4 separate regions of the Homo sapiens genome follow, and regions 1, 3 and 4 are each linked to region 2. Evidence: fine-mapped expression QTL. A gene starts in region 2. Each other region holds a variant in brackets. All regions are shown on one strand. Distances are from middle to middle. Region 1 has its middle 15 kb from the start of KLF5. Region 2 holds the start of BORA (BORA aurora kinase A activator). Region 3 overlaps DACH1 (dachshund family transcription factor 1). Region 4 has its middle 130 kb from the start of KLF5.

What was found. PIP is the estimated chance that this variant, and not a neighbour inherited with it, causes the effect.
Region 1: its variant is fine-mapped to the expression of BORA in whole blood (INTERVAL, PIP above 0.99).
Region 3: its variant is fine-mapped to the expression of BORA in lymphoblastoid cells (GTEx, PIP above 0.99).
Region 4: its variant is fine-mapped to the expression of BORA in visceral fat (GTEx, PIP above 0.99).

Annotation. Positions count from the first base shown.
Region 1 is chr13:73,040,491-73,048,261 of GRCh38, reverse strand. No RefSeq gene overlaps it. Among named protein-coding and RNA genes, the nearest start is that of KLF5, 15 kb to the left of the region's middle. The variant G/AG (reference allele first, on the strand shown) is at 4,211.
Region 2 is chr13:72,723,835-72,731,605 of GRCh38, reverse strand. BORA (BORA aurora kinase A activator) reads right to left here and starts at 3,683. Exons shown (of 12, transcript NM_024808.5): 1 at 3,599-3,683; 2 at 2,513-2,680; 3 at 219-325. The coding sequence starts at 2,665. MZT1 (mitotic spindle organizing protein 1) reads left to right here and starts at 3,977. Exons shown (of 3, transcript NM_001071775.3): 1 at 3,977-4,082. The coding sequence starts at 4,004. RefSeq lists enhancers at 3,402-3,451, 4,172-4,241 and silencers at 3,662-3,811, 4,335-4,516, 4,472-4,531.
Region 3 is chr13:71,829,246-71,837,016 of GRCh38, reverse strand. All of the region lies in intron 1 of DACH1 (dachshund family transcription factor 1), which reads left to right. Among named protein-coding and RNA genes, the nearest start is that of DACH1, 34 kb to the left of the region's middle. RefSeq lists an enhancer at 4,696-5,301. The variant T/C (reference allele first, on the strand shown) is at 4,074.
Region 4 is chr13:73,183,225-73,190,995 of GRCh38, reverse strand. No RefSeq gene overlaps it. Among named protein-coding and RNA genes, the nearest start is that of KLF5, 130 kb to the right of the region's middle. The variant G/A (reference allele first, on the strand shown) is at 3,747.

The DNA.
Region 1 (7,771 bases), 320 kb before region 2:
TTGAAGTTGGGAGGCAGAGCTTGCAGTGAGCAGAAATCATGCCACTGCGCTCCAGCCTGGGCGACAGTGAGACTCTGTCTCAAAAAAAAAAAAAAAAACAAACAAAAAACCACCAAACAAACAAACAAAATAAAAATAACTAGTTATATAAGAGAATATCCTTTTTTTAAGGATACACACCCTGATTATTCAAAGGAGGTAAAGGCCATGATGTGAGCAATTAACTGTAAATCAGGAGAAAAAAGTCTGTGTGTGTATGTGTGTCTGTGAGAGTGTATTATATGCATACTGAGAGATATAAACAGACATAGAAACAGATATACAGAGAGAGAGGCAGATGTGGCAAAATATTAATGATTAGCAAATCAGGATGAAAGTATATGGGAATTCTTAAAAAAAAAAAAAGTTTAGCCAGACATGGTAGTGTGTGCCTGTAATCCCAGCTACTCGGGAGGCTGAGGCCGGAGAATCCCTTGAACCTGGGAAGCAGAGGTTGCAGTGAGCCAAGATCGTGCCACTGCACTCCAGTGTGGGCGACAGAGCAAGACTCCGTCTCAAAAAAAAAAAAAAAAAAAAAAGAATGGGAATTCTTTGTATTATTCTTGCAACTTTTTCTGTAGGTTTGAAATCATTGTGAAATAAAACTAAAAACAATAAAAGGAATAACGTTTGAAGACTTTATTTTAACAGATGAAATTCTGCTGTCTAGGACTGGTCTTCGAGGATTTGTATTTATAGAAGGTTGAAAGTTAACTTGAAGAAAACCCAGCACTAATCCACACAAGCAATTCCATCTCAGTTCAAACACATCCCTTTCCTCTGTCTTCATGGACTAGTCATTTCTCTGTCATGATGGCCTCGATGTCTTAGGTGCCACCACAGTTACCACAGTTATCAAACTTGTTTTTATTCTACACCCATGGTGCAGTTTCTGCCGTGTAGCACACTAAATGCTTTGAATGTATGAGAATGAAGACAACACACACACACACACACACACACACACACACACACACACACGAGGCTCCAGAGCTTTAAATGAAAATGTCAGAAAGAACATTACTGCCGTTATGTCTTTAAAAAATATTAGGATAGGCCGGGGGCGGTGGCTCATGCCTATAATCCCAGCACTTTGGGAGGCCAAGGCAGGTGGCTCACTTGAGGTCAGGAGTTTGAGACCAGCCTGGCCAACATGGTGAAACCCCATCTCCACTAAAAATACAAAAAAATTAGCTGGGAGTGGTAGTGGGCACTTGTAATCCCAGCTACTAAGGAAGCTGAGGCAGGGGAATCTCTTGAACCCGGGAGGCAGAGGTTGCAGTGAGCCAAAGTCATGCCATTGCACTCCAGCCTGGGCAACAAGAGTGATACTCCGTCACAAGAAAAAAAAAAAAAAGGCCGGGCGCGGTGGGTCACACCTGTAATCCCAGCACTTTAGGAGGCCAAGGCAGGCAGATCACGAGGTCATGAGATCGAGACCATCCTGGCTAACACAGTGAAACTGTGTCTGTACTAAAAATACAAAAAATTAGCCAGGTGTGGTGGCGGGAGCCTGTAGTCCCAGCTACTTGGGAGGCTGAGGCAGGAGAATTGCTTGAACCCGGGAGGCGGAGCTTGCAGTGAGCCGAGATGGCGCCACTGCACTCCAGCCTGGGCGACAGAGCAAGACTCTGTCTCAAAAAAAAAAAAAAAAAAAGGTAAACATAGTAGAGGCAGTGGTAATAATATGCACAATTCAAACAATAAAATATCAATTTTATTTTAATGTAGTTTTGATTAGGTGTTTTTTGTTTTTGTTTTTGTTTTTGTTTTTGAGATGAAGTCTCACTCTGTTGCCCAAGCTGGAGTGCAATGGTGCGATCTCGGCTCACTGCAACCTCCACCTCCCGGGTTCAAGCGATTCTCCTGCCTCAGCCTCCCAAGTAGCTGGGACTACAGGCATGTGCCACCATGACTGGGTAATTTTTGTATTTTTAGTAGAGACGAGGTTTCACTATGTTGGCCAGGCTGGTCTTGAACTCCTGACGTCGTGATCCGCCCGCCTTGGCCTCCCAAAGTGCTGGAATTACAGGCGTGAGCCACCGTGCCCAACCTGGGTTTAATTTTGAAAAGCCAAAAAACCTGCTGTCAAGGACCATGGGGTTTGATCTTAGTGGGGCCATCCCGACATCGCGCTCTGCAATGTGTTTGAGAAGGCAGATCTGAGGTAGCATGAAATAAAGACCCATGCCAGGCACCAGTTGGACTTTAAAGATATATCTTTCAAATGTGAAAAATACTAGATTCTTCTTTTTATGCCACCAGAACGTTTTGAGGAAATGGGATCCTTTTTTTTTTTTTTTTTTGTTTGAGACAGAGTCTTGCTCTGTCGCCCAGGCTGCAGTGCAGTGGTGCGATCTCGACTCACTGCAAGCTCCACCTCCTGGGTTCACGCCATTCTCCTGCCTCAGCCTCCCGAGTAGCTGGGACTACAGGCGTCTGCCACCACCCCCGGCTAATTTTTTTTTTTTTTTGTATTTTTAGTAGAGATGGGGTTTCACCATGTTCGGCAGGATGGTCTCGAACTCCTGACCTTGTGATCCGCCCCCCTCGGCCTCCCAAAGTGCTGGGATTACAGGTGTGAGCCACCGCGCCCGGCAGAAATGAGATCCTTAACACTGTTCACAACATTATTGTTGAGGTTTGGAATCCCAGACATAATGAGCAGGGTGGCCTAATGGCACGTGGCAACAGAAGACAGAGCACACACAAAGGATGATTGAAGAGATGCCGATGCAAATTGCCCACAGCGTGTATGTATGAGGGAGAAAGGAGTCATTGAAGATTTTCCTATGATAAAGTATTTTTAAAACAACCAACAGATACGTACTGGACTCCTATGAGTAAAAACACTGAGAGTCCAGACAAAAGCGAAGCTGCTTCAGTTGAATAGAATCCCATCTAGTTTAAGTTACAATATATACACATGCAAAATACAAAACTTTATCATGTCCCAAATGCATGGTGAACCAGGAAGAGAGAGATCACTGTGGACTTTGATACTTGGATTAACCCTTAAAGAAAGCGCAAGTCTCTGCAAACTGCAAAACGGTAGATAGGAGGAAAGCGGAGGGAATTCCGGGCAAGAACTAGCTTGGTGCTTAGGGTTCAACACAGATTACATAAATTGATGAGAACAATTAGCCCCTAAATGGATCAAATCAGATTTCTCCATGATGTGTAAATAATTTATGTAATAAAGTCCAGGAGAATTTCTAACATAATGGAAAGTCTTGTGAATCAGTGTGATCATAAAGTTAAAAGACATAGCCAGGTGCAGTGGCTCATGCTTGTAGTCCTGGCTACTTGGGAGGCTGAGGCAGGAGGATTGCTTGAGCCTATCAGGTTGAGGCTACAGTGAGCTGTGATCTCACCATTCTCTCCAGCCTGGGTGACAGAGTGAGACTCTATCCCCTGACAAAAAAAAAAAAGTTAAATGATAAGTGACCCCTCTACCCTCAAGTTCCCAAAATAGTAAGTGACTAGGAGAAATTATTTGCAGCAAAAGATTAATATTCACAATCACAAAAGACATTCTTTAAAAAGCTATTTAAAGAAAAAGATAAACTGGCCAGGCATAGTGGCTCACGCATGTAATCCCAGCACTTTGGGAGGCTGAGGCAGGTGGATCACCTGAGGTCAGGAGTTCGAGACCCGCCTGACCAACATGGAGAAACCCTGTCTCTACTAAAAATACAAAAATTAGCCGGGCGCAGTGGCTCACGCCTGTAATCCCAACACTTTGGGAGACTGAGGTGGGCAGATCACAAGGTCAAGAGATTGAAACCATCCTGGCCAACACGGTGAAACACCGTCTCTACTAAAAATACAAAAAAATTAGCTGGGTGTGGTGGCACATGCCTGTAATCCCAGCTACTAGGGAGGCTGAGGCAGGAGAATCACCTAAACCCAGGAGGTGGAGGTTGCAGTGAGCTGAGATCACGCCACTGCACTCCAGCCTGGTGACAGAACGAGACTCCATCTCAGGAAGAAAAAAAAAAATTAGCCAGGTGTGGTGGTGGGTGCCTGTAATCCCAGCTACTTGGGAGGCTGAGGCAGGAGAATTGTTTGAACCCAGGAGGCGGAGGCTGTGGTCAGCCAAGATCGTGCCATTGCACTCCAGCCTGGGCAACGAGCAAAACTCCATCTCAAAAAAAAAAAAAAAAAAAAA[G/AG]ATAATGCGACAAACAAAAAATTAGGCAATAGGAGTAAATAGGCAATTCACAAAAAAGACATACAAATGGCCAATAAACATAGGAAAAGATTTCCAACCCCCTGACTATGAGGAAAATGCAAATTAAAACAGTAATGGAATAGCATTTTGTTCAACTGATGTACAAAAATGAGAAAGATTCCAGGAGGATGTAGAGGAAACTGAAAGTCTCATAATGTCAGTAAAAATATAACTTCTTGTGGACTTTGTAAAATATATATCTGTACAGAGGGCAATTTCATGGATCTGTTAAATATAAAATTTCGGCTGGGTGTGGCGACTCACACCTTTAATCCTAGCACTTTGGGAGGCTGAGGTGGGTGAACTGCTTGAGCTCAGGAGTTTGAGACCAGCCTGAGCAACATGGGCAAAACCCCATCTTTACAAAAATAAAAAATAAAAAAATATATATATGCATACACACACACACACATAAAAGTGTCATACACTTTGACATTCCATTTTTAAGAATTTGTTCCTCAAAATTATTCAAATGTGCACAAAGATAGGCATAGCAGAATGTTTATTGCAGCACTGTTTGTCATAATGAAAAATCAGCAGCCATCTAAATATCCAACAGTAAGTATGTAATGATCAAGTAAATGATTAAGTAAACTCTAGTACATCCACACCATGTACTACTATTCAGCAATTTTTTTTTTGTTGGAGATGGAGTCTGGCTCTGTCACCAGGCTGGAGTGCAGTGGCGCGGTCTCGGCTCACTGCAACCCCCACCAGGCTGGAGTGCAGTGGTACACTCTTGGCTCACTGCAACCTCCGCCTCCCAGGTTCAAGCGATTCTCCTGCCTCTGCCTCCCAAGTAGCTGGGATTACGGGCACGCGCCACCACGCCCAGCTAATTTTTGTATTTTTAGTAGAGATGGAGTTTCACCATGTTGGCCAGGTTGGTCTTGAACTCCTGACCTCATGATCTGCCTGCCTCGGCCTCCCAAAGTGTTGGGATTACAGGCGTGAGCCACCGCACCTGGCCTATTCAGCAATTTTAACAGAATAAAGTGTCTATATCTGTACTGACACAAGAAGATCTCTAGGCTGGGCATGGTGGCTCACGCCTGTAATCCCAGCAGTTTCGGTGGCTGAGGCAAGAGGATTGCTTGAGGCCACAAGTTTGAGACCAGCCAGGCCAACATAGCAAGACCTTGTCTCTATTTTAAAAAATGAATAATAAGGCCAGGCGCGGTGGCTCACGCCTGTAATCCCAGCACTTTGGGAGGCCGAGGTGGGTGGATCACGAGATCAGGAGATCGAGACCATCCTGGCTAACATGGTGAAACTCTGTCTCTACTGAAAATACAAAAAATTAGCCAGGCGTGGTGGCAGGCGCCTGTAGTCCCAGCTACTCGGGAGGCTGAGGCAGGAGAATGGCATGAACCCGGGAGGCAGAGCTTGCAATGAGCAGAGACTGCGCCACTGCACTCCAGCCTGGGCGACAGAGCGAGACTCCATCTCAAAAAAAAAAAAAAAAAAAAAAGAATAATAAATTTTAAAACAATAATACAAATAAAATAAAATAAAGATACAAAGAGAAAGAGAGGCCTTGTGTTTACCTGTTTAAAAAATGTTAGAACCTCACAATAACTGAGTTTAGTTTCTTAATCTACTCCACATATGCTGTAAGATACAAAGCACTGGCAGCAGCTCCTGAAAAGGAACCAGCAGAATGATCAATGTGATGCTTGCTATGTAGCATTTTACAAAGTCAACTTATGAAAGAAAGTCTGATCCTTTCAATTTTCCTGCCCAATTATTTTCGGTTGATATGTCTCTGGAAAATCTCTATCCCTCTCACCATGAATATTTGATTAAGTCTATTCATTTTTTTCCTCCATAAAGCATCCTGGTTTACACTTCGCCTTGTTTGTTTGGTGAGGTGGTTGAATGCATTTGTTTGTATGATCCTGGTAATATGTCATCATTGGAGTTATAATATGTTAATTTTTCAGAAATTTACAAAAACTAAAGAGAGGATACTTAATACCAGTGCCACCTCAATTCAGTGATATCAGTATACAAACACACTGGCCATTGTGACATGTAGCAACAATCCAGTATGTTTAATGTTTAAGAAGCCAAGTCGGCTGGGTGCGGTGGCTCACACCTGTAATCCCAGCACTTTGGGAGGCTGAGGCAGGTAGATCACAAAGTCATGAGTTCGAGACCAGCCTGGCCAATATGGTAAAACCCTGTCTCTACTAAAAATACAAAAATTAGCCGGACGTGGTGTTGGACTCTTGTGGTCTCAGCTACTCGGGAGGCTGAGGCAGGAGAAGCGCTTGAACCTGGGAGGCGGAGATTGCAGTGAGCCAAGATCGTGCCACTGTACTCCAGCTTGGGTGACAGAGCAAGACTCCGTCAAAAAAAAAAAAAAAAAAAAAAAAAGAAGCCAAGTCACATTTTTTTTAAGATGGGATCTTTCTTTGGTATCTAAGCTGGCGTGCAGTGGCGCAATCATAGCTCACTGCAGCCTGGAACTCCTGGGCTCAAGCAATCCTCTTGCCTCAGCCTCCTGAGTGTAGCAAGGACTACAGGCGCATACCACTGCGTCTGGCTAATTTTTAAATTTTTTTGTAGAGACAAGGTCTGTCTTTGTTGCCCAGGCTGGCAAGTCACTTCATAGGAACTCATGTTTTGCAAAGATACAGGCAATAACACATTTTTTATGATAGCTTGGTAAATCTCTTAAAAGGGAGAGGTTTATGGCAGAAATGATAACGCTCTAACTACATGTGTGTGGTTAACTCTGTTTCAGCCATTCAAGTTAACTTCTACCTATATTTATGGGCTTGATTGCATAATGTATGAAGTTTGCAGGAAGTACCTGGAAGATAAGGTTACATAGACAAGTTATTTAAGTTTGAAAATAAACCACAGCTCATGCTGGGAAACTAGTTTATAGACAATTTTGTAACACAAGTGAATACGTCATTCATTTTCTTTTAATATTTTTCTTATCGCATAGTTAACATTAGGAGATTAATCATTGTTTGACTGTGCAGCATAGTAAGTTAACAGAAAAATGTAGCATCAGGGATTGATTAGCTGAAAAGTCAGTGAGTTACATTATAGAAGCGAAGATAAAGACTTGATGATATTTAAACCATCCAAACAAATGGATGATTTGCATATATGATGATGTCCCACTGGACAATGGTTTTCTTCATGAGCGTCATTCAGTAGTAAGACTCAGGTCTACTGACAAATATTGCTTGATCAACATATCATTTGCCGCAAGAAATGACCTTTTATGGTTAATGTGTAACTGATTACTGTTCTTCCTCTATAGTAGCCTACATTTTACAGCAGAGAAATACACTGTGTACACTTAGTGCCCTACAACACTAAAACATGTCAAATGGTGGTGGTATACCTTCATATATTATGATATTTGGCATTGTGCAATGGTTATGACACATTTGCAGTGCGTTCACCCTGTGTTTCAGCTCTTGTTATATGCAATAAAACTTTTGCCACAATATTTAGATACTTAGAAAAATCAAGACT
Region 2 (7,771 bases):
TTGTAAAAGAAAAAGGTATCTACTCAGGTCTGGAACTGTTGGCAAGAAAATCTTTCTGAATGTAGTTCTTTGAACTCATTCATTTAGATAGAAAAAATCTGCATCAAAATTTTTTCTCCCTGATACCTTTACATAGAAAAATACTCAACATTTAGAATTTCCTACCTCTCTTCACTTGAGAGTGTTATTAGACTTAGGTGCAAGAAAGGAAAACTTACCGAGAATGACTTAAGTATAAAGCTTGACGATGAATATCTTCTGGGTCTATTTCTACAGGATTTATTACAGCTAGTTGATCAATAGACCATCTAAATTTCCCTGGAGTCTTAACAAAAGAAAGTGAGCTTATGAGTAAAGGCAAACTAAAATAGTTCATCAAAATGCTAACCTATGTGAGAAATAATATGAATGGTTATAATATGAAAATATTTTAAAGCTTGTATTTTAAAATTTGACTTTACCATGAAATTAAATGGCAAAGGGTAATCATATCACATTCGATCAACTGACTTAATTGTATCTCTCTCTCTCTTTGTTTAAGACAGAGTCTCGTTCTGTCACCGAGGCTGGAGTGCACTGGTGTAATCTCAGCTCACTGCAACCTCCACCTCCCCGGTTCAAGCGATTCTCCTGCCTCAGCCTCCTGAGTAGCTGGGATTACAGGCACCCGCCACCACACCCAGCTAATTTTTGTATTTTTTTTTTTTTTTTTTTTTTAGTAGAGATGGGGTTTCACCATGTTGGCCAGGCTGGTCTCAAACTCCTGACTTCAAGTCATCAGCCCACCTTGGCAGTGCTGGGATTACAGGCATGAGCCACAGCGCCCAGCCTGTATCTCTTTTAAAATATCAGAATCTTTCACCTGGGTTGGAATTACGTAATACGAGAAAAATCACAACAGAGTAATAAAGATATAAAACTTTCACAATTAACACTCATCAGTGTGATAAACTAAGCCCATGTAAAAGTAAAAATCTCTCACAGTTAACAAACGTCTTTACTTTCACTAAGAAGGAACTGAAATTAAAGTCCTTAGTCACTTTGGAGGTGGCTGCAAAAGCTCACAACATAGTTGATCCTTAAAATAATTATGAATGGCAACCAGTGCTGCCTTTCTGTACTCAACCATGCAACTGAATTAAAGGTTTATCCAAATCCTAATCTGTAATTAGAAATATATTCTAGGCAAATTCAGTCCTAAAAACGCAAGATGCCATACATTCCAACTTTGAGGATTAAGCTGCCGTCAATCTATTATTTATTTTTAGTAAGACCAAGAGATAAATTTTAATGATTCAATTAAAAATCATAAGGTCAGATTGATGAAATGACTCAATATAAACTGCTCGACCTTCCACTAGTACATACTTGCTCATTGTAAAACCTGTATGAAAGTGTAGCAGAAACAGCCACCCTATTTGCAGTTTTTCTAAGTAACTTGGTAGGTTGAAAGATCCAAGGTCAAAAGAACTTATCCAGTGTAGCAAATAACAGTAAAATAAGATAAAGTGGCCCGGGCATGGTGGCTCATGCCTGTAATCCCAGCACTTTGGGAGGCTGAAGTGGGTGCATCACATGAGGTCAGGAGTTCGAGATCAGCCTGGCCAACATGGTGAAATCCCATCTCTACCAAAAAAAAAAAAAAGATAAAGTGATGAAGCCTTTTCTAATATCCTGAAGAACACTTTTCCTTCATATTACTATTGTCCTAAGTACTAATCATATCACCTATCACACTGCCTTGATATTACTCATCTAGTTCTGTTTAACACATTAAAATAGGGGTTAGTTTCTTTTTATAATAGATTGCAAGCTAAGAATTATTTTGACAGTTTCAAATGGTTGGGAAAACAAACAAAAAAATATCTTGTGACATGTGAAAATTATATGAAATTCAAATGTGTCCATAAATAAAGCTGTATTGGAACAGAGTAACATTTATCTCTTTACACATTGCCTATGGCTGCTTTTGTGATACAAGACAGAAGTGAGTAGTTGTGACAGAGACCAAATGACCTGTAAAGCTTAAATATTTACTGTCTGGCCCCTAACAGAAAGTTTGTGACCCATACATCGGAGTATAACCTCCTTAAGGATTTGTGCCTAATGATCCTAACTTGTTCACAGTGTAATCCCTGCTTAGCACTGTATCTGACACATAGCAACACTCAAATAATGTTTGCCAAATAAGTGAGAACAGAATATTAGATGATGCAGCTTCTTCTCTAATGTATTAGTAGCTATATCGTCAACCACAGAATGTAGCTACACCCACAACTGCAGGAAGCTAACGTATGTTCTTGAACTTAAAAAAAAAAAAATCTTCTAGCTAACTTATTAACCTAACCACTAGATTATAATGAACACTACAATTTAAAAAAGTATATTGCAGCTATATATGCTCCATAATGTATTTCCTCCTTACCTTGTAAAGACAGATGTTTACATTTAAAATTATTTGTAATTACTTACATTTAAAATTAGTTGTAAACACTAGTCAGGAATAACTTACTGGTAATTTTGTTGATTTAAAAACAGAAGGACTGGCGAGAGTTTGTTCATGGAGATTAGAATAATCACTAGGACTTTCAAAAGGATTTAAAACAGGGATCCTTCCTGGAGTTTCTGGTGTTATTTGCATCTTTGATTCCTTGACATCTCCCATAGCACAGAGAGAAAACTAAAAAGAAATCAAGAGTATGCATGTTAAAATTACAAAGTCCCATAGATATTAATTTTAACTATTAAAATGTACTCGACAAATGTGTCACAAAAAACAACTCAAAACCTCACACTCTTGGGGCTATGATACAGCTTACAAAAAAAGTATCACATATAAATGTTCTCAACTGATCCTCGAAACAACCTTGAAAGCTATAGCAGTAACTTACTAGTGATATTATTTTGCGAAAGTATTAAGCTCAGAGAAGTGAAGTGGCTTATACGCAGCAATCAAATATGAATGAATTCAGATCTGCCTCTGAGGAAACTAAAGGTTACAACAGGCCCAGATCTCTTCTCAACTAAAGGACTTATAGCTACAATTTTTTTTAAATTCATCATCTCATGTCTCAACACTATGAACATTCTTCGGATACCCTATCCAACTACAGTTGCTATTAAACAATTCTTTGTAGCAAGCAGGTAAGAGATGAGGAAGCTTGTGCCTTTCTTGCACATGAGTCCTAGCCAGAGAAGTATGATTGACAGGGGCTAGGAAATTAACTGCCTGGGGTCCCCTTTCCTCCAAAAATCCTCCTTTCGCCAAGACCTCCCCTCCACCCCTCCCGGGATAGAAAGGGAGACTGCATTACTTGCAATCAAAGGAGGCTACAGAGGCTACACCTTGGCGGGGTGGGGTGGAAAAGAGTCTACTTCTGGAAGGTTGAGATGCAGCCGGCTTCCCTGGATGGAGTGCGAAGGAGGCGTCGCCCCCAACCCTACGTGGCCACTCTTTCTGGTGCCCCTCTCTTCCACACCTACTCCCTGACTGCTCCCATTCACCAGGGGCGAGCGGGCAGGCAAGTCAGGAGCTGGGAAAAGAAACCTCTCCATTCAGACAGGAGGAAAGGCCAGGGACCACAAAGAGCGTACCTACCGGTGCGTACAAAACGAAGCCCCCAGTACCGACTCCAGGGAGCTCCGGGGGCCAGGCCAGCTTCCACGACAGGCATAGACTCTTTAACTCCCCGCTTCCGCGCTGTCTTGGGCCAACCAGGGCACGGGGCTTGTGAGCGACTAGCCAATCGTGTCGTCCCGCCATCCGCGAACCAGCCAATCGCACGGAGGCCGCGTAGGAAATTCGAATGGCAACTCCTCGCTCCACGTTCCGCGCAGAGGAACGTGGCTCCAAATTCAAATCAACGCAGCCTCACGCCGGCGGCGAGCGCGAGGGGCGGAGCCTGCCCGGCGTGGGCCGAGACGCGCTGTGTGATTGCCTCGGAGAGAGGAAGGCGCTCCAGTTCCGGGTCAGGCCCTTCTCCCGCCTCCCTCGGCCTTAGCCATGGCGAGTAGCAGCGGTGCTGGGGCGGCGGCGGCGGCCGCGGCGGCGAATCTGAATGCGGTGCGGGAGACCATGGACGGTGAGTTTCCGTTGCGCTCCCTTTACCTTGCGTGCCTTCCCAGAGCCAAGGCCCCCAGGCGGGAATGAGCCTGGGGAGGACTTCAGGTCCCCTTAGTGCCCCAAACGGCATCTTCCAAGATCTTTGGTAGGGACCTGCCAGGGCCGCAGGGCTGATGGCCCTATCCCTTGAGAGTTGTCTCCGCCGCTGCGTAGTTTGTCGCGCGCGCTAGGCGTTGCGGCCCCTAGTCAGCCGGTTGCGCACCGCGTCCCTCTCGCGCGAATGCCGCGCCCCCTCTATCCCGCATCCCAGGTCCGCCCTACCCGCCCGATCTCCTGCGGTGACAGCGTCACGCCCACCCCACCCAGTACACCCGTTCCCTCCTGCGTGCCGCGTCCCACCCGATTCCCGCCCGGGGCGCTTCGGGGGTCCCCAAGGTTGGGATCCCGGCGGGGACAGGGGCCAGGTGTTTGGTCACCGCTATGCCTCCTGTTCTTCGCACTTAAGTAGGCACCTTTAATATCCGGCGAATGAACAAGTTCCCCTTTGGTCATAATTATCCTAGTTTCCTCTTGAAGCGGGTGACACCAGTGCCCAAGTGCTATGGTGTCGCCTGTTTTCGGCCCCGGAGGCACGTGTGTGTGAAGCCTACACAAGTGTTGCAGAACACGAAATTTGTGTCTTGCGGTTACCCTCTGTCTACCCTCTAATGTCGGTTCTGCCACTTTATGCCCCTGTGGTGAGCTTGGACTAGATACTTAAACATCATTGAGCCTGTTTAGTTTTTTTTTTTTTTTTTTCTGTAAAATAAAACCCTACCTCCAGGAGTTGTGAATATTTAAATAAGACAACCATGTAAAAACATATCAAAGATGATCAATTATTTTTATATTATTTCAGATGGCCTCTCTCTTGTAGTCTTCTTTCTTTGTCTCCTTTTTACTCACATCCACCTGTATTATGAGTGTTTGATCGATGTTGTTATTTGCAGTGGGCCTAGACGTTTTCCAGGGTCTACTCACGTCAGCTTCCGTCTCTGTTAAAAGATAACCCTATGAAATTCTCACTGCTGTATCTCTCTCTCCTTCACCGTAGGCTCTTTTTTTCTTTTTTGAGACACAGTCTTGCTGTAGTTGCCCAGGGTGGAGTGCAATGGCGCAACCTCGGCTCACTGCAACCTCCGCCTCCCGGGTTCAGGCGATTCTCCTGCCTCAGCCTCTGGAGTAGCTGGGATTACAGGTGCCCGCCAGAACACCCGGCTAATTTTTTGTATTTTTAGTAGAGACGGAGTTTCCCCATGTTGGCCAGGTTGGTCTCGAACTCCTGACTTCAGGTGATCCACATGCCTCGGCCTCCCAAAATGCTAGGATTACAGGCGTGAGCCACCATGCCCGGCCTCATTTTCTTATGTAGCACTTGCAGAGGGGCTGCTGGCTTTTTCTGCACTGGTCCTGGTTTTCTTTTCAAAGAATTACACTTTTAGAGCCTTTGCATCTAATTTTTCACTTGTTCAGTATCTACCTTGCTGTTTTTCTGAGAATGTTACTCTTAATATTCAGCTTATTTTTCTATCCTTTTCGATGTATCAACACTTAATAGTTTTATTTTGTAAGTGGATTTATGTATGAATATATATATGTGTGTGTATATAAATATAAATTTACTGTCTTGTATATTTCCTTGGAAAAAGGTAGAGTATAAGACCTCACTTCTAGCCTATTTTCTTAGGTTAGCTGTACTTAGGTTCCTTATGTATATGGCCACAGGATCCCATTTGAACAGAAAACTCACATTTTCTCTGGTGGAATCACTGATGTACAATTGAGAACTGATGGTTTGTGTTGGCTGCATCATCAAGATCTCTTCTGAGAAAACTTGGTGTGAAATGAAGATTATAAAGAGAGTAAGAACACAAAAAAGTGAAGTAAAACAAAAAATGAAGGAGAGGGGATGTGGTGTTACACAGTATTTAAATCAACCCGTGAGATCAAAAATAAAATTTTCAAAACTTTTTGAATACCATTTCTCCCCTCAATGGTAGCATTTGTGAACCTCCCTTTAAGTCATGTGAATTGCAGAACTCTTGGCTACATTTGCATTTTGATCATGAAATGAAAGGATTTTGTTAAAGACATGGAAGGAAGCAGGCTAACTTTCTATTAATAAATTATCTGTGCACCTCACTCTGAAAAGAACTATCTCTGCCAATTTAGAATAAGGTCTGCATGAGATCTCTGCTTTCATCCTTATATCCCTAAAATTCTACACGCTTAAAATAGTCGTGCCTTTTCAACAACACCCCCCTCGCAACCCACTGTGTATGGTTGCCTCTTTTGCTTTTCAACTTTTTGGTATGTTAGGTACTCTCTATTGATTGCTTTTTATACCTTAATTTTTATTTTCCTCTAAAATCGTCCTGTGCATCTGAATTTTAATTTTGATAATTATTCCTTATGAGAGGCTTTATCATAGCACTATTTTTTTTTTTTTTTTGAGACCGAGTCTGGCTGGAGTGCAGTGGCGCGACCTTGGCTCACTGCAACCTCCGCCTCCCAGGTTGAAGCTGGGGATGGGAACCAATTCTCCTGCCTTGGCCTCTGGAGTAACTAGGATTATAGGCGCCCGCCACCACGCCCAGCTAATTTTTGTATTTTTAGTAGAGACAGGGTTTCACCATGTTGGCCAGTCTGGTCTGGAACTCCTGACCTCAGGTGATCCACCCGCCTCAGCCTCCCAAAGTGCTGGGATTATAGGCGTGAGCCACTGTGCCCGGCCTGTAGCACCACTTTACATATATATATGTGTATATATATATATATATATATGTATATATATATATATATTTAGTAGTAAGTACGGGTGCCTGTAATCCCAGCTACTTGGGAGGCTGAGGCAGGAGAATCGCTTGAACCTGGGAGGCGAAGGTTGTCGTGAGCTGAGATTGCGCCACTGCACTGCAGACTGGGTGACAGAGCTAGACTCCATCTCAAAAAAAAAAAAAAAAACACGTTATAGAGAAAGGAGTTAAGAGAATCTATGGTATATAGATTCCATTTGACTAGCACTGCAAGGCAGTACCAGCGAAACAGTCCATGCTACCACCATCAATCCAGTTGCACATTTGAGAAAGAAATCTAGAAGTCAGTCTTGCTTTCTCACCTCCTCTGCCTCCTGTTCTTCACTAAGCCCTTTCAATTCTTGACTCATTTCAGGTTGGCTAAATATCTCCTGTTCATCCTACCCACCAGTCTTTTATCAAAATTGTGATATAACTGGACTTTTTAAAGATTCATTTGATACTCAGCCAAAAAGTCCTTAAAATGCAAGTTTGATTTTTTTATGTTCCTATTTTATATCATCCAGTAGCTTTCCACAGTTCTAAGATCTTCACTAGGACTTACCTCATATTTTATACCCATTCACCCCGTTAATTACATTGCCTTCACAATAGCAGTTCAGGTCTGAATTTACCAAGTTCCCTCTAGTGTAGGGACCATCACACAAGCTGTTTTCTTTGCTCTCAACCATCACCCTTCCTCCTGCCTCTGTATTAGTCTGGTTGATTTCTACTCACTTTTGATGTCTAAGTGTAATTGTCACTTCTTCAGACAAGTCTTTGCTAAACACTGTGTCCTTCCAAACTTGGTAAGATGCCCTTGTAATTTGTTTCAGAAGTATTCCACTCTTTATTTATTTTACTTATATCTGGA
Region 3 (7,771 bases), 890 kb after region 2:
TGTGTGTGTGTGTGTATAAAGTGATGAAAACTACATTTTATCTACTCAATGCATATTTGTTATGCACCTAATATATGACAGGCATTTCTTCTAGGTGTTTTGGATAAAAATCCCTACCCTCATAGGGCTTCAATTCTAGCACTCATGGTTAGGGGTGGAGAGGGAGGCAATAAAGAATTAACATAATCAATAAGCAAATTACGTTAAAAATAGGACAGAGTGAGAGAGCTTGGGGTATGAAGAGTGGGATAGGTGAAATTTTAAATAAAGTGGTCAGAATGAGGCCTACCTCACTGAGAAAATGACATTTGAGTCAATATTTGAAGGCGATATGAAGAGCTCAAAGGCATTTTAACAGAGCTTATTTTTCTTTGCATTTTCTCTCGCTTTGGTTTCTAGCTTAGTAGAGGAGGGAAATAGGAAGTATGGATCAGAGTTAATGCTATAAAGCTTTGCATTATCTACAAGTAGGAAAATATTACATTTTTTTTCCTGCAATTCTAAGGGACAAGAACAAACTATGCTGCAGATAAAAACTAGGTTTTAAGATCTTTTCTCTGCCACTTGCTGGCTTGGGGATTGTAGGCACGTTTTTTAAAGTCTGTGAGTCTTAGCTTACTCGTCTAAAAGTGGAATAATCTTGGGTGACATTAAATGAAATTATGCATATTAAGCACTTAGCACAGTGAGAGACATAATAACCACTCAATAAACATTGACTATTAATTTTTATTTAATATTTTAGTCTTTTTTTTTGGAAAATGTAGAATTCTTCATAGCCTACCAAATGGGACTTTCTCTCTAATGAGAAATATCTAGAATACTCTATAATGGTACCTTTTTTCTCAAGATGGTGAAAGGAATAAAATGTGTGATTCAGAATTCTTTGGCTAGATTTATTATTAGGCAATTATTGAGCAAGATAAGGTAAGACTATTACCAGTTCCTGAATCTGAGTACCTATGATAAACTGTGTTCAACCGTTCTGCTTTTAATTGGAGTATTAGTGAACTATTTTATTTTTTCAAGTTGGTAAATAGCCTGCAGTGATTACCATTCACTTGGTTTTGTATTAAGAGGTATAAATATCTTAAATACAATAGAAAATTTCCAGATCTCTGCGATTTTATGAGATAGTAGAAGATTTGTAGGAGAATGTTAGAAAATGAATCTGTATAAACTTTAATGTAAACTTCTTTAAAGTGATTTTTTTGTTGTTGTTTGCTAGAAGATTGACTTTCATCACTTCTTTCATTCCTTCAGAGTGGCATAGATAAGGTAACCATAAAATTAATTAGCCGAACTAGGACACTCTTGAGAATAAACAGAAACAATATTACTAATTCTGTTGGGACAATAGGTATAAACTAGGACTATCATGGGCAAATGGGGATATATACAGTCATGGACCAATAGGGCCTCTTTTTTTCACCAATACATAAAGGATCAATCACCAGTAGCTTAGAGATGAGCAGTTTTTAAAAAGTCTGAGATAATTTTTACCTCTGGGATAATTTTAGGAGACAAGACAAAATTACCTTACTTGGAGGCAGGCCAAGAGAACAGGATTCTTACCCTTGTTGTTTTATTTTCATTTTAATAAGCATTACAGAGTTTCTCATGAATGACAGTGATTGCAAAATTGATTGAAAGCTCATTTTAATTCAGACTTCTCCATACAATATTTTTTCTTTAGTTTACTTCTTCCAGTCCTTTTGCTCTGTTTCTTGTATTTGTATACATCTCAGTAAACAAGCCTTTATTTGCCTTGGCAAGCTCTAGGTATTTTATTCATTAAGTGAACAGGCCGGTTTCTTTTCTAACAGACTGGTGGTTACCATTTCAAACAGCTCCCTTTGGTCTATTTTGGTCTTATTGTGACTCTCTGAGCCAACATTTCCAAAGTTTTCACCAGCAAATATGTAGGAAGAACAATGAATTTTGGTGGGGAGTTGAGGAGAAATGGGAAAAATTTTGGCAAGCTTGCTTTTCTGTCTTCTTATCTGTTTGGCAAATTCCTGGGCTGAGCCTCAACACTAAATTTCTCTCCCTGCACATGGACAAACACTGAGAGAAAGACAAATGTGGGAAAAGGGAGAAGTAGAAAAAGCAGAGGTAAAAATGCAATGCCTGGGATTTTCAGAATGCCGACAAATATGTGGGTATCTATTCAGCTTCCAAAAATTATGCATCTTCTCTGATTCCCAATGCAAAAATGTGCACATGATTTCTTTGATCTCAAATGGGTATTATTCCCAATATCGTATTAAAGTCCCAATTTTTGAAATGGGAAAACGAAACCAATTTAAGTAGTGCATCAGATGCCACTTAAATGTTAAGGTGGGTCCACCCTTTATAAAATGAGAGAATTGGTCAAACATAGGCTACAGCGGGGTGCGGCGAGGCAACAGAGCCGTTAAAAAGCGTGTGGAATTCTATGCTGAATTCTTCAAGTTCTGACTTCATTCATGGGACTACTTTCTTTTATATAGATAGTGATTCCAGAAATAATGTCCCATAATAGTATTTCAGAGGTGCTCTTGGGCACAATAGCTCTAGATAGTGGAGATTAGGTAGATATTTGGGGTCTTACTTCACGGGCGTGTTATATGAGAACCTTTGCATCATCCATTTTGCTTCTAATCACGTTTTCCATTTCTGGTGTGTGCTTCCCTCATAACCCTGTTTTTATATCATAACGTTTGCTGTATCAGCACCCATTCTCTTTCCACTGCTCAGTTTTAAATAGCTTCATTATGAAAAATATAGTACTTAAAAACATGGCACAAATGTGTATTACTTCAGCACAAGATAAAGAGATTACTGAGAAGTGCACTGACTGCTGAAGTAACTTTATCCTAAGGGATATTTCGCTACTTTAATTGATTTTTTCTGTCCATTTTATTAAGAGTCCTTGGAGAAGGTAAATGGTAGGTTACCTCCTGGAAACAAAGGAACATTTGACGTATTTGTTATGACTACCAGTGTGTCCATACTTTTGTAAAGTTAAACATTTTTTTCATCATCATTTCAAAATTACTTATACTGATGAATAAAAAGATGAGGATCAGTTAGTTCCAACCCTAGATAGGGTGTACTTGAATTTTAAATATCTTGTGCTATTTCAGAGAATTAATCTACGTTTTACTTATTTATGCTAGTTAATAAATTGTAGTTTTGACAAAACTAGGGATTACAATTTATTGTATCAATTACTATTAAAACATTTTAAGACACTTTTTTATTTTAGCTTCACAAAGCCATCCTAGGCAAAACTGCATGACACTGTCGAAGGTCTTTAAGTGGCGTCTCTCACTGCTCTTAGTTATAAAAGTTTAGATGAATGAATACTCTTATAAATCAAAAAAGCTTATAAAGTACCCAGGCTGTGTCACCAAATCCCATAGTTGGTGTGGGCTCTGAATTGTGATATTCATACAAGTTCAGGAATAGTTAAGTTCCAACATTATCACTCCCACCTGAAATTAGGATACTGTAAAAAAAATTATGATGCTACACAATATGTTTATAAATCTCTGTTTTAGTCTATCAACATCGTTGTTTTCCATCATTCTCTCCACTTATACTTCAAGTAGTAATGTGTACAAATTAGGTTAACGGATGCTTTCAAACAAAATTTAGTTTAAATTTGTTTATTCTCTTTATAAACAAAGATAAACAAAATAAAAAGGATGAAACTATGAGACTTTCATGAGCCTCTTTAAATAACCTAGCTCTGTATCTGGGTGAAAGTGACCTACATCCACTGGACCATAGAACCCATCCCTCAGTGGGTCCTGGGGCAGGTATTTCTCACTGAGCATCCCTAATACTCCTAGCCCAGGTGCTACAGATGAATCTGATGCACTAGGATTCTTTTACATCAATGTTGGCTCTCTCTTACAAAATGTTTTCTCTTCTTGTAGCTTTCAAAACGTTCTATTCACATAGATCTCAGAAGATTCTGAAGGGAGCGCAACTTCCCTGTTAGCGTCTTTCTGAAGCTATATGGATTTCATTAAAAATAAAAATAAAAATAAAAAAGTAGGGAGTGGAATTCAGATTGTTTTACT[T/C]AATTGTCTTCTCTCAAAAAAGAGGAAAAATAGAGATAAATTAATTACTCCTCTTTTTAGAATAGTAGGAGTTATCTATATATAAAAACAAAGCAATTTAATGTTGGCTTGGTCATTTAACTTAAATACAATTGAAATGAGAATAAACAAAATGAAACAAACTGCTTTAATTGAACCTAGGTGGCTGGATATCATGCCTTCTCTTACATTTTTACATTTCCAGTAGTAGAAGATGTCTTATTTTGAGAAGCTAAATTGATCAAGGTCTATCATTTGAACAAGTTCCTCTTCTATAATAACAAAAAAAATTTAGGTAGTTCTAACTCTAGCTATGATCTACTTGATTTTTAAGTATAATTTTCTATTTGGGAATATTCAACATCAGTTTTAGTCATCTACAGCCATTTTTTGACAAGAATGGAGATTGCAACTTATTTTATGAAAATTTACTATTAAAACATTTTCTTAGTTTAACTTTTTCTGCTTTTTACATTAAAAACAAAAATCGAAACACTTATTTTTTTATGTTTATGCAGGCCCCATGCATTTTAGCTAATACTTACTTTTGACAATATCTAACATGTTGGAGTCAAATTATTTTGCTATTGGGGAGAACAATACTCTCATTTTTACCATGAATTGTTGCTTTATTGTTTGTATTCCATGGCAATGTTATACATTTTGAAGAAATAAATATTCTCTTCCTTTGTCAATAAGAGATCCACTTCATTTATTCCCATTTAGTTGTCTTCTCTTTGTCAGGATTTAGACTAACGAGAAAATCTTAGAAAGATCCTTTACTGTCTAAACACCAAGCACGCAAATGCTTCTCAATAGAAATAACACAAGAAATGCGTTCAAAGACAATACCTAGCCTGAGAAATTCTTGTGTGCTGACAGCTCTCCAACAGTGTTGTCACAGCAGGAAGACATCAGTTGAAGAAACAGATAGTGACCTCAAAAAAAAGTCTGGTCAGCAGTGTGGACAGGGTTTCACAAGATTATAAATCACCCCAGGGTCGCTCTGTTCCCACCATAAAGAGAGCATGGTCGTTTTATTGTAATCTAATAAGAGATGGGAGCAAAGGACAGCTCCAGTGTGTGTTTGCAAAAAAAATTCTTGATTACAGTTTCAAAACTATACAGTTTCCCTGCTATTGAAGTGCAGATTATAGGGGTTAAGGCCATGTTAGGATTGGATTACCTTTTTATAGCTGTATGTTATCCCTCGGTTCATGAATCAGAAAGTACTTAAATTAAACTGAACATTTGGGAGCAATCCCAGTATGTAGCATGGTGGTAGAAAATTAATCATGATTTTGTGATAGATTATTAAGCTGTTCATTTGAAGGGGGTCTTTCATAGAATCAGAAGATTAACTCTCTGGTGGGTATATAGTAGTACAGAAAAAAGCCCACCCTATATATCACAAGTTATGTTAGGACTCATTTTAGAGGGGAATGATTTAATGAAAGACAACATGCATTTATATAAAAATGTGTATGAGATCAAAACATCACTAGCAGATTTTCAGTTTCTCGGACCTTACTATTTTTTTTTAACTTGTATTTATTAGTTTCTATGTTTATTTTTATATAATACTATTTAACTTAAACCATGTGGTTACTAAATATTTTAAATGGGGCATTTTAACATGAGAAAAACTAACAATTCCATATTCGAAATATTTAGGAATAAAAAAATTACTCCAGTTAGATTAAGAGTTACTGAGGAAATAGTAGCCACAATTTTGAAGGAAAACTCTAAATGTGATGACATTTTAAAATAGCACATGCCTCTTCATTTGCCCTAGAAGCACTTCATGTGGTGGCGAAAAGGCTTTAACTTTATTCAGTCATTTTATCGTTTGTACTTAAGCTTCTTCAACACTATTTGATCTATATACATTTCTGGGACCATAATCAGGCATCCTACCATTTAACTAGATTTTATTCCCTAACATATTGCCTTTGCTTTGTCAGTTTGTTCCTCTGGAACCATGCTGACATCTCAAGATAAGTCCTATCAGTCTTGGGCTATTGACTGAATTTGATTGTGAAGAAGCCATCACTTAGAGTAGAGAGAAACAGGGTGAGGTGTTATTGCTAAGAATATACTTTATGTTATGGTTCTAAAATCCAAAAGTAAATAAGATGGGATTGGCAGCTCTTCCTTTTTTATTAGGCATAAGATAGATTTTGAGAGCTCTTTTTGTCTTGTCTTCTTTTCCCTTCAGGAGTCACAAACCTGGTAGTTTTGCTCTCATTTACTTTCTTGAGCAGAGATGAACGTGAAAGGGAATTCTGGCTCTCGAAGGATATTAGACTGGTCGGTTAAACATAGTGGGTCTTTAATTCATCTCAGTTTATTTTCCACTTGTCAATTTCTCTTTGTCTCTTCCTCATTTATATATGCTTAAGTAGGTGAGTAGACAGATTTCACTGTTTCTCTTTGCCTTAGACTTTCTCTAGTGCTGCTAAAAGCACTACGACAGGAACTGGAAACTGGAAATGATCAATATCCAGACAAGTTCTATTATTTTTTGAATATAGAAAACATTTGTGACTTCTACAACTTCCGTTGGCTGAAAGAACAAAAGCTCTGGGTGTCACTGCAACTTCAAGCTGCAAATGACCAGAACAATAGTACTCAATTTCTTATTCTAATTTACGCTAACTTGATTCTGTTTCCTATTGGCTATCATAAGAATTTTGCCTATATAAATAAGATAAATTTGATTGCAACCTCTCAGATATTTTCTGAATCTGTTAGTGTTGTAGGTGTGTTTCGTATTCTTAACTTTTTTACTACTTATGTTAGTAAAAGATAAATGAATATATCTACTTAAAATATTTGGTGATTTTAAGAAAGTAAGCTATTCTGATTTCCTATAAGTAGAAAACATATCATTGATCATTTATAGTGGAACTACTCCTCTATTTTTACACTCTCCCTAGGTAAAGCATACAAATTAATTCACAGCAACCACCATCTAACACTGGAATTTCTCCTAAGGCTAAGACTTGTGCACAACCATCTGTTTTACATATGCATTTTTTTCTTGGTAATCTTTATTACTAGATGGTCTCAAATAGAAAGTACATAAGTGCAAATGCCAACATGTATTTTTGTTAGTGGTGCTGAATAGACTGGTTAAGGTAGACAAACAAATGTACTTACTTTGATTTATCACTTCTGACATTAGCATGTACCATACTGCTCTCCGGGAAGCAAAATGGTTGCACCTGAGGACAGTGATATAAACACTACTTTGATTATTTGAAACAAACCATTAGGCTTTGATGAAAGAACTATTACCATGGTGGATCCTTTGCAGGAAGAGAATGCTTGGAGATAATGGATGAGCAGCCTAAAATTACTTGTTTAGAATTTAAAGAAGTCAAAGCCTAGGTTTGAGGAGGAAATAAGTATATAAAGCAAATTTAATTTTGTATAAATTTATACAGTTGAATTTTTATTCCCAGTACGTACTTAGTTGCAGTGACTTTCTTGTTTTAGATGAAATTTATCCAAATTAGACAAACTTATTCTAAAGTCAAATTAATTGTGTTTGAAAATTAAGTCCAAAGTCATTCTATTCTATTTTTCAAAAATAATTTCCTAAGATCAGGATTTTATTTATTTGCATCTAGAAACTACCATATGTTTTGTCTTACATTTAAACACACACACAAAAC
Region 4 (7,771 bases), 460 kb before region 2:
TAAGATGAATCCTATATTTGAAAATCAACATGAATGGAGGCATAATAGCTATTAGTTTTGCCCATCTGCCACTCTTTCTCCGCTTTTCCTTCTGTGAACAGGCACCACCAACTTCACAACAGGGTTTTATGGGACTCATCTTGGAGTCTCATCTCTTCCTGGACACAGCAATTGGTTCAGGGGTGGACGCATGAACCAAAAAGAACTACTGGGAATCTTCCCAAAATGTCTCTGCCGGGCTGCCAAAAGAAGAAGAATCTCTTATTTCTCGAGTCACTAAATCAAGGGCTGCCTGCCAGACATGTCATCCTCTCCCTCACCTCCTCCACGAGGGAGAGAGTCAGGCTGCCATGGAAGAGAATGGAGCTGGCTTCAGAAGGAGGCAGAGACGAGACAGACAAATAGAGAGGCCAGACATCATTCAGGTTCTCAGTTCCAGTTGTCACTAAAGCCAGTGAGACATTTTAATCTGGTTCCATTTGTCAGTGCATTTCCTTTTGTTGTTTAAGCTAAGGTGGGCTTCTATCACCACAACCAAGAGTCTTAACAATTCAGGATGAAAGTGAGGATACACAAAATCAGAACCTTGGTAATACTAGTGTTTGTTTCTTTGGATAAACAAGCAAATGCTGCAAAAGAACTCTAGAACTTCTTCCCATTCACCACAAAATGTAAAGAGATACTTTCACTTTCTTATGAAGTTTCTCATTCACTTGTCATTATCTGATACCCACACAATATCAAAGACTTGCAGTGTCTTTCTTACATTGTTCCTATTATTACATATTCAAAAAAAATCTTGTTTTAACTTTTCTTAGTACATTATCGTATCAGTACCTTTGCATTTAAAAAAACAAACTTTAAGAAATGATTAACAATTTCTAATGCAAGATACCGGTTTCTCTCATTCCCAGGAGAAGGAGAAGATGAATGCCTCATAATAGGATTTAGAGAGAAAGAAAAAACAGCTTTCCTTAGGCTGTTTCGACACATTGACATGAGAGATCGCGCTGCCTGATCTCAGCAGGGAAGAGCTTGAGGAAGGCAGGAGATGGGCTAGGAAACAATGGAGACAAACGAGGTGCATTTGCGAAGACCCCCACCATGGGTTCTCCTTGCACAGTTTCTTCAGTTGATTTGGAATGCTATAAATTTCTGGAACACCAGACACACCCAGGTTCCAGTGCAAGTACAAAAACATATCCCACGCCAAATCCAAATTATTTTTGTATCATCTACCATTTGAGATTATGCCCTGTTCTTCCCCTTTCCCTCAGAGCAGATAAGCAAGAATCAACTGTGTAGTTATTAACTAAGAAAAAGAAAATGGGATGAATGGGTTGATGGGAGATGCTGCAGGGTCACAATGGACGACTGAGCAGAAGACTGTTTGGTATCACATCCCCAGCTCGATCAGTGGCTTATGCAAGAGACTGAGTAACTGCTTACCTAATTTTACTGCTAGGTGAGAACAACATGTCCTTCCTCCTTCCTAGCATGCTATGAAAACTAAAGAGATAACATCTTAAAATACTTAAATACTTGGAAAAAAATGATAGCATAGAAACATGATATTACCACCACACTCCAAGGTAGCATATATTTTCTTCATACACAGTACAAAAATTTTCCATAACAGACCCCCCAAAATTTGAAAAGCCAAGGAATTCCTACTTGCTTTGTGAGTAAATCTCTTATCAAGAGCTTAGAGAATGTAAAATTCATTGTGCACATGTACCCTAAAACTTAAAGTATAATAAAAAAAAAAATTACGGAATTTTTGTTAGTACTCTGTGTGTCATAATTGGGATTATATTTTTAAATAAGTTATCTTTTAGAGATATATTCAAAATACTTATAAGTGATATAATGTCTGGTGTTTTCTTCAAACTAATCCAGGAGAAAGGAAGAAAAACAGCATGGTAGTATAGATAAAATAATTGGACAGAGTTTATAATTATGGAAGCTGGGTGATGCATATCTGGGGATGAATTATATAATTTCTCATATTTTGTATATATTTAAATTTTTCATAATAAAAACATTTGAAATGCTAAAAAAGTTAAAGTAAAAAATAAAACAAAAAAAAGAGAATGTAAAATTTAACCCTCTGCTATGTGCACTTATTTGATTTCAATAAATGTTACACATATTCAAGTGAGAAGAATATTTGATCAAACACTTTAACCAAGGATTAAAATGAAGTCTTTATAAATTATATATGAACGTTCCCTTAGTTTTGGAGGAAATAAAAAAGTATAATTTCAGGGTTTTTTTATTCTAACTCTATTTTGGAATTTCAAAGTCACTGATACCTTTAAAAGATATATATTTTTTAAAACTTATCTAAAAGGCAAATATGACATGGTCCTTACTACATAAGATGAAGGACTTTAGTGGCTTCTAGACTTGTACATAAGAAATTGAAATTTTAACTTCTAAATTTCAAGTTCAGATCTATTAATCACAATTGCAAAGTTCCAGGAAGAATTTTATGCAAAGTGCTGTAGATACCTAAATATGGATTAGGTCGGAATTAAATCTATTTCAAGTTAAGTGCCAACTCTAATCACTTGTTAGTCATTTCTAGAACCCTGTATTTAAAAAATTCTGAGGTCACATCTAGTTTTAGCAATACAGAATACTGTGATCAATTGACAATGTCTGCCACAGGCTCAGAAATGGGACATGGTGAGCACGGTGACATCAATGCATTGTATGTGCCGTCTCTGGGGTATAAAGCAATTGTCCCTTAATATAGTAACACTTTCATTGTTAGTGATTACTGTCTAACTCAGAAGTTATTTGAATTAGTCACTGTTCTCCAAAAAAAAAAAAAAAAAAAAAAACAATATATAGGATGGAAGGAGAGAGAGAGAGAGAGAGAGAGAGAGAGAGAGAGAGATTTATTTTAAGGAATTAGCTCACACAATTCTGAGGGCTGGCAAGTCTGAAAATTTAGAGGGGAGCCCAGCAGGCTGGAGACCCAGAGAAAAGCTGATGTTGTAGTTTAAGTCCAAAGGCTGTCCAGAGGCAGAATCCCTTCTCCCCCAGGGGAACCTCAGTCTTTTCTCTTAAGGTCTTCAACTGATTGGATGAGGCCCCCCAACCTCACGGAGAGAAATCTGCCTTACTCAAAGTCCACTCATTTAAATGTTAATCACATCTTTAAAAAAATCTTCACAGCAACATCCAGACTCCTGTTTGACACAAATCTGGGTACCATGGCCTACCCATGTTGATATAAAAACTTAAACATCACAGCATTAAGAGTTATTTCTTGGCCGGGCACAGTGGCTCATGCCTGTAATCCTAGCACTTTGGGAGGCCGAGGTGGGCAGATCACCTGAGGTCAGGAGTTCAAGACCAGCCTGGCCAACATGGCAAAACCCCATCTCTACTAAAAATACAAAAATTAGCCTGGCATGGCGGTGGGCACCTGTAATCTCAGCTACTCGGGAGGCTGAGGTAGGAGAACGACTTGAACCCAGGAGGTGGAGGTTACAGTGAGCCGAGATCGCGCCATTGCACTCCAGCCTGGGCTACAAGAGCAAAAACTCTGTCTCAAAAGAAAAAAAAAAGAGTTATTTCTTTGTTGACAATGTACTAAGTGCAGATCTCATGTTCTTGACATTGCCCAAACAGAATCATCTCACTATTTCTCACGATGATCCTCTGATGAGTGTATTATTATCCACTCTTCATAGATAAGCAAAGCAAGCCAAGATGTTAAGCAACTTTTCCAA[G/A]GCCAAGAACTAATCAGTTGAGAGAAGTCTTGCTAAAATAATGCTGTTTCAATGTTTCTCCAACCTCACTGTTTTAAATAGCATTTCTCTACATATCTACATAGCCTACATATATATATATACACACACATATATATACACATATATACACACACATGTATACACACATATACACATGTATACACACACATACACATGTATACACACACATACACGTGTATACACACACATACACGTGTATACACACACATACACGTATATACACACACATACACATGTATATACATGTATACACATGTATATACACACGTATACACATGTATATACACACATGTATACACATGTGTATACACACATGTATATACACATATATACATATATACACATATATACACGTGTGTATATACACGTGTGTATATACACGTGTGTATATACACACATATATATATATACACACACATATATATACACATATATATATATTTTTTGGAGACAGGGTCTCACTTTGTCATGCAGGCTGGAGAGCAGTGGTGTGATCACAGCTCACTGAAGCCTCGACCTCCTGGGTTCAGGCTATCCTCCCATCTCAGCCCCACAAGCAGCTGAGACCACAGGCATGTACCACAACACCCGGCTAATATTTTTTTTTATTATTATTTTTGGTAGAGAAGGAATCCCCCTATGTTGTCCAGGCTGGTCTTGAACTCCTGGGCTCAAATGATCCTCCCATCTAAGCTTCCCAAAGTGCTAGGTTTACAGGTGTGAGCCACCGTGCCCGACCCTCTACATAACCTCTCCAAAACCTCCCTAATTGCTTTACTCTCCCTCTGCATATGAATATACATAGGTCTATTCCATTTCATACTGTACTTAAACAACATGGGTGTTTCCCTACTAAAACCTTTCTGATTGCACCCAATTTCTTAAACGCTGCCTCTGCTTCCCCATCTCTCACTCCCCTTCTGCCACAGGATTCAAAACTCAGGAGTGATGGCTGAAGGCGAAAGCTCAGATTCTCTCCTCAGTTGCACTTCTGCGCTCTCTCTTGGTACCACTTGGCACTACGGACGCCCTTTACCCCTTGAGACACTCTCTCTCCCCTCCATGGCTGCCAGGAAAGTCCCACACACTCCTTCTCTGTTTGTGACCATTTTCTGTTTCCTTCAATGGAGCCATTCTTAATCTTGGCTTTCTACACACCTGGAATGTCTCTGCATCCTCTTCTCCAGGGTTCAGCAAGCTTTCTGTAAAGGACCAAATGGTAAGCACTTTAGCCTTTGCAGGTCATAGGGTCTCTGCTACAAGTGCTCTCCTCTATTTTATCTCAAATGTATCTGACCCCAGACAATACTAAAAGGATGGGTGCGACTGTGTTTCAATAAAACTTTATTTATTGGCACTAAACTTGAATTTCATGTAATTTTTATGTGTCACAAAATATTATTCTCTTAAAACAATTTCTCCATGATTTAAAGGCCATTCTTAGCTCACAGGCCATATTAAAACAGATAATGTACTGGGCAGTAGATTGCCAACACCTACATTATAAACCCTAAATCATCTTTAAAATCTAGGTCAAATTCAACCTCCTCCCTAGAGCCTTCTGTAAGTACTCTAGGGTAAAGTGACATCTTCTGCCTCTAAGTAAACACATCTGATAACTCTCATTATTATCTGTTTCATATTCTCTATTGTCCCCTGACCTCTAAAACAAGGTTAGGTCGGGGCGCACAGTGGCTCACGCCCATAATGCCAGCACTTTGGGAGGCCAAGGCAGGCAGATTGCTTGAGATCAGGAGTTCGAGACCAGCCTGGCCAATATGGTGAAACCCTGTCTCTGCTAAAAATACAAAAAAAAAAATTAGCTAGGCATGGTGGTGGTCGCCTGTAATCCCAGCTACTCAGGAGGCTGAGGCAGGAGAATTGCTTGAACCTAGAAGGCAAAGGTTGCAGTGAGCTAGGATGGCGCCACTACACTCCAGCCCGGGTGACAGAACGAGACTCCTCTCAAAATAAAAATAAAATAAAATTAAAATTTAAAATAAAACAAGGTTAAATATTTTACTGATTTTACACTTTTCACGCATACAAATCCTCTCTCTCTCAGATTGCAAAAAACCTTAAGAACCGAAACAATGTCTTCCATTTATATATCCTTCATGGTGCCTTGCAGATTGTAAGTCTTCAATAAATTCTGGTTTGTAATACAATGTTAATATTAAAAATACATATAAATATATATGTAAATACATATAAATACGTGTGTGTATATATATATACGTGTGTGTGTGTGTGTATATATATATATATATATATATATATATATATATATACACATTTTTTTTTTTGAGACAGAGTCTCACTCTTGCCCAGGCTGGAGTGCGGTGGCACAATCTCGGCTCACTGCAACCTCTATCTCCTGGGTTTAAGCGATTCTCATGCCTCAGCCTCGTGAGTAGCTCACATTACAGGTGTGTGCCTCTATACCGGCTAATTTTTGTATTTTTGGTAGAGACGGTGTTTCGCCATGTTGGCCAGGCTGGTCTCCAACTCCTGGCCTCAAGTGATCCTCCCGCCTCAGCCTCCCGAAGTGCTGGGATTACAGGCATTGAGCCACTACACCAAAATACATATATTTTAAAAGACTATGTTGTCCAAATAAACTTCTCTCTTGCACAATACATTGAGTGAATGGAGGTCTAAATGCCCGCTTTATATCAGGTACTGATAAAAGCTTTTATATACATTAATACATTATTTCAATTAACTGTCATGACAGTCCAGTGATGTAGGCAGCATTATCTCCCTTTTACCAAAGAGGAAGCTGAGGCTCCAAGGCAATTGAATTGCCCATGTCATCGAGATCTTCTAACTTTGAACTCCACACCTCTACATTTGCTTCAGTTCAGAAGGAAGAATTAAAAAGACTTTTTTCTAATAATCGTAATTATTATCATCCCTTTAGGAAGCATATGGCCATGGATGAAGAGGATGAAAGCAAGTGTAAAGTTCAAAAATGCTCAAGGAACTTATTTTACCCAGGCTCCTCTACTCGAAATCACTTCCATCCTTGACCTCCCAATCCCATCTATCACCAATTGCTGATTCCAGCTCAGTGCTACCCACTTCACTCTGCTCTGCTAAATACTAATTTGTCTTCCCATCTCAAGTCATGCCTCCTTCCCATTCATTCTTCACTCTGTTATCAGAATGACCCTTCTAAAACACAAATTTGTTCATATTACTTTGCTGCTTAAGCCCTGCAAAGATGTCCTTTTGCCCGTAGAAGGAGTCTACACCACTTGAAACGGTACATAAAGCTCTCCACATCTGCCGGGTGCAGTGGCTCACGCCTGTAATCCCAGCACTTTGGGAGGCTGAGGCAGCAGGATCACCTGAAGTCAGGAGTTCAAGACCAGCCTGGACAACATGGAGAAACCCTGTCTCTACTAAAAATACAAAAAATTAGCTGGGCATGGTAGCACATGCCTGTAATCCCAGCTACTCCAGAGGCTGAGACAGGAGAATCACTTGAACCCTGGAGACAGAGGTTGCAGTGAGTCAAGATCACGCCACTGCACTCCAGTGAGGGTTACAGAGCAAGACTCTGTCTCCAAAAAAAAAAAAAAAAAAAAATTCTCCACATCTGGACCCTACCCCTGACCCCCACCTCACCTGACCCCTCATGTGCCTTCATGCTCGGTGCTCCAAGTTCTCACAGTTGCTCCATCAGGCCATAGACACTGTACTCAACCACCGCTCTCATGTCTGTTCTCTTCAGTAAATGGGAAGACAAAGGGAGACCTGGATATGAGTGGCAGCAAGAGCACCATGACAAAGGCACAGGGTCCCATGCCTTGGAGCCCATGGCTTAGAATTCTCTTCTCCTTCTTCTTTACCTGGCTAATCTTCACTCTGCAAGGCTCATCTTTTGAATAAATTAATGAAGACTTCCTCTTCTCTTCTGACCATAACACCATTCTCTGATAGACGTTTCTGCCTTTATATTATTTTACCAATCCACA